Homo sapiens: one gene and its partners. The protein of the gene in region 1 purifies or fractionates together with the protein of each later gene. This does not show direct contact. Each region holds a gene or a part of one and is shown in the gene's direction. Other genes may lie near its edges. The genes, in order: MMRN1, CTSH and RNASE7.

Evidence for each region.
Region 2: the proteins of MMRN1 (region 1) and CTSH purify together in Homo sapiens (affinity purification with mass spectrometry; 3 studies listed by BioGRID and IntAct, with this or other methods). This does not show direct contact.
Region 3: the proteins of MMRN1 (region 1) and RNASE7 purify together in Homo sapiens (affinity purification with mass spectrometry; 3 studies listed by BioGRID and IntAct, with this or other methods). This does not show direct contact.

Annotation. Positions count from the first base shown.
Region 1 is NC_000004.12:89,897,796-89,901,446, forward strand, and holds part of MMRN1 (multimerin-1 isoform 1 precursor), read left to right. Parts: intron 1-3,651. UniProt on the Homo sapiens protein: Carrier protein for platelet (but not plasma) factor V/Va. Plays a role in the storage and stabilization of factor V in platelets. Upon release following platelet activation, may limit platelet and plasma factor Va-dependent thrombin generation.
Region 2 is NC_000015.10:78,928,037-78,931,687, reverse strand, and holds part of CTSH (pro-cathepsin H isoform a preproprotein), read left to right. Parts: exon of another isoform or gene 1-91; coding exon of another isoform or gene 92-181; coding exon 182-237; intron 238-2,194; coding exon 2,195-2,276; intron 2,277-3,651. UniProt on the Homo sapiens protein: Important for the overall degradation of proteins in lysosomes.
Region 3 is NC_000014.9:21,040,816-21,044,566, forward strand, and holds RNASE7 (ribonuclease 7 precursor), read left to right. Parts: upstream 1-1,546; 5' UTR 1,547-1,627; intron 1,628-2,137; 5' UTR 2,138-2,177; coding exon 2,178-2,648; 3' UTR 2,649-3,418; downstream 3,419-3,751. UniProt on the Homo sapiens protein: Exhibits a potent RNase activity.

The DNA of each region.
Region 1 (3,651 bases):
AATAATTCCTCTGTCTAAGGAATATTCCCTATAAAAAGTAAACACTAACATACCTATCAGACTTCAAAAAATGTTAATATGTGCTATGAGAAAACAAGATACTAAAGGTATAACTTGCTGAACAGAACTTTATCCTCTGGATTTTCTAACAAAAATAATCTTAAACTCCTTCTATAGAAAAGTACTAACTGCATGTAGGGATTCTCTTATTTGAGGTCCTGGAGAGCCTGAGGTTTTCTTTTAGTAATCCTTTCCATTACCAAGATTCCTTACTCATTAGGCCATGCAAATGACAATGGCATTAGAGAAAAGCCTAGGTCCTTCACTTTTGGACACAGTGCTGCTGCAAACCCTTGATATGGTCAAAAGAAGTCCTTCGTACTTTCATTTGATTGGCAAATAATAATAATAATAGTAGCAAACACTTATATGGCATCTGTTACTAGTACTCTACTATTGTCAGTGAATATATTCACTCATTTAATCATTACTATAACTCCATAAAGAAGAGGAAGATTTTTATCATTATTTCTTTACAGAGGGATTAAGTAGCTTACCTAAGGTCACTTGGCTAACAAAGCTCAGGGCAAAGACTCAAATCCAAGCTGGCTGGCTTTAGAGTTGTAGCTCTCAGCTCCTACATTACACTCCCTTGGCAGGTACAGTCTCTTATCACAAGTGGGAAGATAAGCGTGACCAGTTCACTTCCCAGCTCGTGAGGCTTCACAGGCTATTGGTTGCCTCCAGAATACAATCTAGATTTGTTACCCAGTTAGTCACACGATGCCATCCTAGATCTGCCTCCTGCCTACCTCCCCAACCTCATCTTCCGCCACTTCCGGCTATTCAAATAAGTGGTTCTCTGGTACAATATGTGCTGTTTGTTAAACCCACCTTTCTTCCCTGTCTGCCCCTGTGACTAACAATGGGCCCTCTTTTGCCATCGTTCTCTCTTTTCACACCTAATAATAACTCCAGGAAGCCTTCTCAGGTGAAGTTAGGTGGCCTTTCTAATCGCTCCTACAGGTCTCTTTGAATTCCCCTGTTCACTGCACTTACGACACTACATAATAATCATAATGAATTTGTAGTATCTTTGCATATAGGGACTTATTTTCAGAGCTAGCAAAGTCTCTGGTTTATAGCAGGTACACAATCAATATTTAATCATACTGAATGTGAAATATGAGGATTAATATGTGAATATAAAGAAGAAAGCTTCCCAAATATTTGCATTTGTTTATGAAAAAAACCTGGTTGATTTAGAATAAACTCATATTTGTTCTTTTTTCTACCATTCTTGGAATTTTATAATAATTCTTAGTAAAAGGCGTATTTATGTTTATTACAGGTTCTTTTCTAGATTATTCAGGATTATTCTGGCATATTTTTGTTTCATCTTGTAGTTTTTCTTCTTTTTTTTTTTAGCCTTGCAGGAACTCCTGGCCAAAATAGACCTATGGTTTCCTGTCTGGCAGAGTGGGTGTTAGTCAATGACCAAGCACTTTGAAATAGGAAGGATGGAAATAAGAAATTAGGATTAGTGTATTTATATGTTGAACAAATATTTGCTGAACACCTTATCTGTCCCAAGCACTGTGCTTGTGCTGGGAGTAAAACAATGAACAAGAACTCCTACATGTCCTGCCTTATGGAACCAACAGCCCAGTGGCAGAGGTGAGAGGAGGAATAACAGTGAATCACAAATGCTGATTCTGAATGAAGCTTAAGAAATTGTAGTGTATAATGGGGGGAATGGCCTACCAATTGTGAATGGGGTCAGTAAACCTTGCCTGAGAGGATAATAGGTGAAATGAGGTAATGATACAATCTAACTGCCTACTTAGCTTTTCCCACAATTCCCAACCCCTGTACACATGTATCTTAATTTTTACCAAATCAGTGAATGGCTAGTTCCATAACTAGAAACCTTGGATAGATCTTTGGCATTTTTCTCTCCCTTCTGGTTTTTATCTAATCTATCAAAAAGTCTTGTTACACCTCTAATACATCCCAAATACCTCAACTTCTCTCCATCTTCTACTTGCCGTTATTCACCACTAGTGTTCTAATTGGTCCACTTCTTTCCACTCTTGTCTACCATAATCCATGATCCACAAAAGGGAGGGATCTTTTGAACATTTAAGTCAGATTAATGCATTTCACTGGATTAAGTCTTCATTATTGTAAGTGACACATTATTTTAGGTACTAATCAGAAGGAAAAGTATGACATCATACTTGCTTAATTTGAATTTTTAGATTTGTCTTTCAGACTTTGAGATTTTGGTCACATATCACTTTTGCAAACTTAAGAAGGAAATGTAAATGAAACTGGTAAAGTATTTCGAAGGCAATGGCAACAACTGCTATCTGACCACTAGTGACTGAAAAATGCCTTTGATTTCAAGACACATTCTTGATTTCAGAGATGTATGTCTTAAAATGTGTGAAATTTGGTCTTTCATTCATTGTCACACTCCAAGATCACTGCACTTCATTTCCTCCAGCCACACTGGCTTCCTTTCTGTTTATTGAACATGTCAAGTTAATATCTCAAAGGAAACTTTTTTTGCTCTTGCTGGAATGCTCTTTCTGCACCTTTTATAATGAAGGACTCCTCTTCCACTTGCACCTCCAGCTTTAATGTCACCTCTTCAAAGGGACCTTCTCTTACCACCCAATGTAAAGTTAACTATGCTCTCACTTGCCATTCCTTATTTTGTCACCTTTATTTTTTTCTTTGTAGGAATTATTTGAAATTATTCTACTTATATAGACAATGGTGTATTTTATGTCTTTCCGCAATACATCCCATGAAAACAGGGACCTTGCCTGTCTTATTACTACTCTATTTGCTGCCTAGAACAGTGCCAGGTGCATAGAAAGAGCTCAATAAAACTCTGTAAAATCATGGATTATTAGATGGGTTTGGCATCCAGAGGGGAGATCAAGGCTAGAGATATAAATTTGGCAAAGCATTGGTATATAGAAATGTATTAAGTCATGAATGTGGATGATACTGAAAGAAAGAAGGACCTTGAATTATGAACGGAGAATCTCTAATATTTGATGAACTGATAGTGGTGGATGCCAACAATACAGTCTTAAATGGGGTGACCAGAGAAGTTAGGAAGGAATCTATAAAAGTGTGGTGTCATAGAGCAAAGGAAGAAAATATTTTAAGAAGGAGGTAAGTGATCAACAGTGTGAAATGCTGCTGAAAAAGACAAAATGAGGACTGAAAAATAGCCACTATTTCAGTTTAGTGAGCACCATGCTCTGGCCTGAGAGAATTGAGGTATGAAGGAAGGCAAAAGAGAGCCATTAAAGCCAACTCAATTAAGGAGGGCTTTTATGAAAAAAAAAAAAAAAAAAGGAGAAAGTGGTCAGAAGCCAAGGCTAGTCCAGTTATTTATGTTTTGTGTTTGTTTCTTATAATATTTCATTTTAAATACAGAGGGCTCATACATATGTTAACATGTTAATGAGAAGGGTCAGAGGAAGGTAAAATTTGAATATGCAGAAAAAGAGGGATTTTTTTTCTGAGTTTAATGACAAATTAGAAAATTAGAAATTATTATTTCTGAGTTTAATGACAAATTAGAAAATTATTCTGAGTTTAATGACAAATTAGAAAATTACAAAAATT
Region 2 (3,651 bases), on another chromosome or scaffold:
TGGGCTGGCACTGCAGGACATACAGCAACTGTCCCTGCCCTTGGGGAGTTTATAATTTGGTCACCTTGACACAGCACTGACGGGGCCTCAGATGTGGCTCAGCCAGGGAGGCTTAGCGCCTCACGCCAAAGCCTTGACGGCTTCTCAGCTGGCAGGTCACTGGGTTGTGTCCTTCTTCCAGGCGGAACAGCAGCTGGTGGACTGCGCCCAGGACTTCAATAATCACGGCTGCCAAGGGTACGTCTCTGACCAGAAGGGGCCCAAAACTTCCTCATTTCCCACTGACCGCTTCGACAGGATCCAGTGTGTGCTGGGTCTGCCACAGATATAACCCACCACTGCCCTGGGCGATGGCAAAATGGTCTCTGTTGTACAGGGGTGGTCACCTCACATGGCCAGGTCTCATAGCCAGGACAGGGCAGAGCTGGAATCTGAGTCCAGGCCTCTGTCCTCTCTCCACTGTATCACCTGGCTCTCCACAGTGCGGTTGGCCTCACCCGCCACCAAGGCCTCTGGGAGTGTGGCCAAAAGAATTTAATAGAGTGAGCAACACACCATTACACATCATCCTCCAAACCCGAGATCCACACACAGATACAGGGTTGGCCTTTAGATGAACTCACTAAAGTCCCAGCCTCCCAAGCTCATTGCGCCCTGTGAGGGTGAGGTGGCTGTGTGTAAGGGCTGTACCTTGCCTGGACCTGCTTTCCTGGCCCACTGTAAAGCAGGTTGCCAGGAATTTGCTGACATTTCTACAGTGACTCTAGCCCTCCCTTCATGCAGTGCTCTGAGACATTTCTGTGGTCTTTGCTCACCTGGCACATGGTGTGCATAAAGCCAGGCTCTTGGGGTGCCGTGCCTCGACTCCCCTCCACCTCCCTGGGGCACATCCCTCTCCCAGACCCCAGCCCCTCTGAGCTGGCTCTTCCTCCTGCAGGGAGCCGTGCTGCAGCCAAGTCCTGGGGACCCAGGGGTGACGTCGTAGCCTGCTCTCAGATCCACCATCATGCTCAGTGTCCCCTTACTTTTGGTCTGTTTCCACTCCACAGCTTAGAAACCCAACCCATAACAAGAGTCTGACATTTGGGCACTCTGGGGTCCCACCGTTTTTATTTTTTATTTATTTATTTATTTATTTATTTATTTATTTTTTCTTTTTTTGAGATGGAGTCTCGCTCTGTTGCCCAGGCTGGAGTGCAGTGGCGCGATCTCAGCTCACTGCAAGCTCCGCCTCCCGGGTTCACCCCATTCTCCTGCCTCAGCCTCCCAGGGAGCTGGGATTACAGGCGTGCGCCACCACACCTGGCTAATTTTTGTATTTTTAGTAGAGATGGGGGTTTCACCATGTTGGCCAGGCTAGTCTCGAACCCCTGACCTCAGGTGATCCACCCACCTTGGCCTCCCAAAGTGCTGGGATTACAGGTGTGAGCCACCACATCCAGCCTGTTTTTCAAAGGAGTCTATTTGCTTTGGTTCAGGACAGTACTTCCTTTTCTCATTCATACAACAAATATCACAGAGCACCCGCTGTGTGTAGGCCCTGGGGATACAGCGCTCAGCAGAACTGGAAGAGCGGGCATTCTGGCAGGCTCAGAGAGACCACAGTCAAGGCTAGACTAGGTCAGGCGGTGCGGAATGCTATGGAGAGAAACAGAGAAGGGACGGGGATTGCTGGGCAGCTGCTGAGTTTTTGTTTATTCTGGGAGGCCACATGATGTAGAAAAGACCCACTTTTGGAACCACTTCCCAGCTTTAGCTGTGTGGCCCTGGCCAGGTTATTCAGCCTCTTTGCCTCAGCCAGTGACAGCATCCACCACACAGGGTCGACACGAGGGGTCAGGGAGTCATGCCTGGGAAGCACCTGCCCAGGGGCTCGGCTGTGGCGATGACAGTGCTCTGGGCTGATGCTGTTGACCATGGTGTGGGGCTGTGCACTCCTGACAGAGCGGCTGGCCTTAAGGGGTCTCTATCCCACTGAGGCATGTTTGGGCTGGTCCTTGGACTCCGGTGGCCTCATCTGAGTTTGCTGAGTCTTATCCCAAGGCTGGGCCTCTCAGAGACCCCCTCTGCCACTGGGACATGCCCAACCAAGTCCCCAGCCTGCCAGGCCAGATATCTCGCCACGCCAGTCCCCGAGGGCCCCGCCTCTATCAGGACAGCCCCAGGTGGGCTCACCTGTGTGTACTTCTTGCAGGGGTCTCCCCAGCCAGGCTTTCGAGTATATCCTGTACAACAAGGGGATCATGGGTGAAGACACCTACCCCTACCAGGGCAAGGTAACTCCAACAGCCTCCACTCTGTCTTCTTGGCGTACAGCATGCCTAGCTTCACTCCCTCCCCAGCCTTGGAAGACATCCCTTCTCCCCCCACCTCCCTCCCGCCGGAATTCTCACAATTGTCTGTTCTCTCCAAATTCTTCCTTCCCCTCCTCCACCCACCTGAGCCCACTGCTCTCACCAGTCCAGGGGCCTCTTTATCATTCTCACCCCATACCCGCTCTGCGGCACCATCTCTTTCCTTCCCGAGCCAGACTTCTCAGGACCCCTCCTTCCCCCCACCTGCCCCATCTTCCTGGCTCCTCTCCCTCCTGCCACGAGCGCCATCCTCTCGCCTCTGTCCATGCAGTTGGCCTCTTGTGCCAAGGACCCTTTGGGGGCCCACCCCCACCCCTACCCTATCAAGGCTGCTGGGCCTCCCACCATCACCTCCGCCCAGCCTGGCCACAGCCAAGTGCCTTGTCTTTCCCCAAGACCTGTTGCTCCTCCTTTATTTCCCCTCGTGGTGATGAGCAGCACTGGCCTCCCTCAGAATTTCCCAGGTGTCCACAGTCCTGTTGGGCCGGTCCCCCTCTCCACCCCACCCTGCCGCCAGCCTGCTGACCACCACAGACCTCACATGACTCCCTTGGCCCATCTGTGTCGCTGACCACTCAGACCGGGGCCTCCATCCAGACCCCTGAGGGTGGCCTCCCCCAGGCCTCTCAAACCCAGCTCAGACCCCACGCCTGCCTCGATCAGAATGCCGCCGAGGCTCCATGCGGCCTTCGGGAGAAAGCCCAGACTCCAACTCAGTCTCCCTGTCTCTTTTACTCTCCCTTCTTTTTTTTTTTTTTTTTTTTTTTTTGAGACGGAGTCTTGCTCTGTTGCCCAGGCTGGAGTGCAATGGCGCAATCTCGGCTCACTGCAACCTCCGCCTCCCGAGTTCAAGCAGTTATCTGCCTCAGCCTCCTGAGTAGCTGGGAGTACAGGCACCCGCCACCACGCCCAGCTAACTTTTTATATTTTTAGTAGAGACAGGGTTTCACCATCTTGGCCAGACTGGTATTGAACTCCTGGCCTCGTGATCTACCGCCTCGGCCTCCCAAAGTGCTGTGATTACAGGCGTGAGCCACCGTGCCCGGCCAACTCTCCCTTCTTAACCTCACGCCCAGGCCCAGCCACATGCTGGTTCCTAAATGCCAGGTCCTACCCTCCCTCTAGTTCTGTCCCTTGTCCTGCTGCCTTCTCTCCTGCCTTGAAAGGGCTGCGCTTCCCTCCTTGTGACCTTACCCCTGCACCTGCCTCTTGCCAGCATTGTTTTTTGGGCTGAGACTGTCCCCACTCCCCTGCCTCACAGGCTCTGACTCGGCCTCCACTTCTCAGTGAGTTTCCT
Region 3 (3,751 bases), on another chromosome or scaffold:
TCAACGATGTTACGTAAAATTACTGACCACCAACCCCTATACTGTTCTACTTTTTTCCCTAGCCATTATCACTTTGAGCAAAGTATACGTATTTTTTTTTACTGTCTTTCTCCAATGGAATGTAAGCTCTACAAAGGCAGGGACTTTTGTCTTTGTTTTTTGTTGTTGTTTGTTTGTTTGTTTGTTTGTTTTTTGAGACAGGGTCTCACTCTGTGACCCAGGCTGGAGTGCAGTGGTGCAATCATGATTTTCACTGCAGATTTTATCTCTCAAGCTCAAGCAATCCTCCCTCCTCAGCCTCTGGAGTAGCTGGGACCACAGGCATGCACCACCATGCCTGGCTAATTTTTCAAATTTTTTATAGAGACAGGGTTTCGCCACATTGCCCAGGCTGGTCTTGAATTCGTGGCCTTAGGCAATCCTCCTGCCATGGCCTCCCAAAGTGCTAGGATTACAGGTGTGGGCCACCGTACCTGGCCATTTTTGCCTTTTTTGTTCAGTGATATATCCCAAGTATCTTGACACTTAGTAGATGCTCGATAAATGTTTGTTGACCACATGAATGAAGCATGCCCAAGATTCTGAGATTGCCTACTACTTACAGGTAAATTCTGAAAACAAAAATATTCCTCATCTCAGTTTTACAGGCCTTCTCACCCACAGAGGGTGATGCTTCTCTGCCTTGGTGTCTCGGTTCTCCTGAGTGTCATATTCCAAGCTCACAAGAGCTTGGAGTAGCACTGACCCAGATGCTCCACACAGCTGTAACCACCACAAGGAACAGGACATACAAGGTGAAGGAAGCACTAAGGCAGGATGTCGAGAGCAGCAACAGCATTTTAAACACAAACATTTGGGCAGTATTAAATTTTTGCAATTTTCAATAAAAAAGGGAGGGAACAAGTGAAATTGAGAGGTGTTGGCTGCCTTCTCCAGCTAAAGCCATGTGGCCTTGGTTGGTACCTGGAACTGGAGAGGCCTGTGAATCATTGTGGAATGGCTTCGCTATTGGGGATGGTGCCAGGCCTCGTGACAGTGATGATTCATTCACCCACTTCCCTCGTGTCTGTTCCATCTCCTCCGAAAGATAACCAGTATCTCCAGATGACAAGGAACCAGACAAAGCATCTTTCTAGGCTGTCCTATCTGTGCCTCAGGTCAGAGAAGAAGCAACCCTTAACACCACAGTGATTGACTCTTCCCAGGATCAAGGGCCAGAAGTGTATATGAGAGGATATGAATGACAACTCTTCCTGAAATTGATTTCAGTTGACACCTGGGTCAGGTGCTCTATTAAAGAGTCATTAAAATCATGTGGCCAGGGAACAAATACAGTCTTCGAATGTGACGATTCAAGCTTCCTCATTGCTGAACATGTTTAGGCAGGTACAGGCATCCTTAGGTGTCCACGTATTTGGGACATGTAAGTGGAGAGGCATGAACCTGATTCATTTCCTGATCCAGTGATGCTCCCAGCCCACCCCCAAACAGACACAGCGTAGCCCGGGCCAGCTCTTAAGGAGTTCAGGAGTGAGAAGAGGCCCTCAGAGATCTGACAGCCTAGGAGTGCGTGGACACCACCTCAGCCCACTGAGCAGGAGTCACAGCACGAAGACCAAGCGCAAAGGTGAGGCTGTGGCAGGATCTGGGGAGGAGTGAGGACAGAGAAGGAGGGATGGGTTCTGATCCTGAGAGTACACTCAGGTGAGCGATAAAATGGATAAAGGAGGGACTGGATTTAGGGGAGATGAGGACACGCATTGGGGAAAGGGGAGAGTGATGTTGGGGATGGAGGCAAAAAATGAAAAAGAATGGGAACACAGACGAGATGGGAATCGGGAGAGGATGAGACACAGACACAGGAACATGGAGACACAAAAGGGATGAGACTTAAGGGAAAGGGGAGAGGACAAAGAGTGACAGGCAACAGGGACAGAATGAAGGGAACAGAAATACAAGATGAGAGATGGGGCCACAGGGTTGTTGTTGGGGCTGCAGTGGATGTGGACACACAGAAGAAGAGGCAGAGATGAGACACAAAGTGAGGAAAGGAGACAACCGAGTAGGGAGATGGGTGACTAGCTCATATGAGCAGGTATAAGAGGACTAATTTCTCAACTGAACACCTCTGTCCCAGCGACCCCTGCCCTCCATCCTGACTGCTCCTCCTAAGAGAGATGGCACCGGCCAGAGCAGGATTCTGCCCCCTTCTGCTGCTTCTGCTGCTGGGGCTGTGGGTGGCAGAGATCCCAGTCAGTGCCAAGCCCAAGGGCATGACCTCATCACAGTGGTTTAAAATTCAGCACATGCAGCCCAGCCCTCAAGCATGCAACTCAGCCATGAAAAACATTAACAAGCACACAAAACGGTGCAAAGACCTCAACACCTTCCTGCACGAGCCTTTCTCCAGTGTGGCCGCCACCTGCCAGACCCCCAAAATAGCCTGCAAGAATGGCGATAAAAACTGCCACCAGAGCCACGGGGCCGTGTCCCTGACCATGTGTAAGCTCACCTCAGGGAAGCATCCGAACTGCAGGTACAAAGAGAAGCGACAGAACAAGTCTTACGTAGTGGCCTGTAAGCCTCCCCAGAAAAAGGACTCTCAGCAATTCCACCTGGTTCCTGTACACTTGGACAGAGTCCTTTAGGTTTCCAGACTGGCTTGCTCTTTGGCTGACCTTCAATTCCCTCTCCAGGACTCCGCACCACTCCCCTACACCCAGAGCATTCTCTTCCCCTCATCTCTTGGGGCTGTTCCTGGTTCAGCCTCTGCTGGGAGGCTGAAGCTGACACTCTGGTGAGCTGAGCTCTAGAGGGATGGCTTTTCATCTTTTTGTTGCTGTTTTCCCAGATGCTTATCCCCAAGAAACAGCAAGCTCAGGTCTGTGGGTTCCCTGGTCTATGCCATTGCACATGTCTCCCCTGCCCCCTGGCATTAGGGCAGCATGACAAGGAGAGGAAATAAATGGAAAGGGGGCATATGGGATTTGTGGACACAGCTGTTTCTGTTCCTGAACTAGAAGTCTTCCCCAGCTCTGACGTGGCAGTGAGGTGACCTGAAGGAAAGAAAAATATAAATAAATACCACTTCATATTTGTATAGAATCCTCTAATCCCTTGTGACATAGACTTGACAGGGATTGTATGCCTTCTTTATGGATGAGGAAATTAAGGTTTTAGAAAGCTTAATGAATTAAAGAGCTTGTCTAATTAGTTAGTAGCAGAACCTGGACTTGAACCTAGGTCTCCTTGCTCTAAATACAGTGTACCTTCTACTCTACCAGTTGCGCAAGAAAGAAGTCACTGTTACAGAGGCAAGCGGTGAACTAGGTAAGAGTTCACTCATGAAGAAACGAGTGCTCTGAAGAGCCAGTTACCCTGTGTTGGCTGCAATAAAGGTCATTACCTCTCTAGCCAAGAGATTGTTTATGAGGTGCTCTGGCATTTTATTCCTTCTCTCTCTTCCTCTCTAACTGCCCCTCCCGTTTCTCTAGACCACTGCTCTTCCAACCTAGGCCCTGGACCTGGCTCTGGCCAGATCCCCTTGGCCTGAAGACATAAGGTAAAGGGAGTGTCTGAGCTTCATCCCCCAGATCCAGGATCACATTTCCTTTGACCTTAAGGGACTTCCGTGGCCCTGAGCCTGCTTGTCACAAACAGGCTGGTGGGAGCTGCCAGAGCTTCCTTCCTCCTGATAATGATCTCCCCTGCCTCATTGCTACCCTGGCTCTCCACTCTGGCAGTCTGCCCA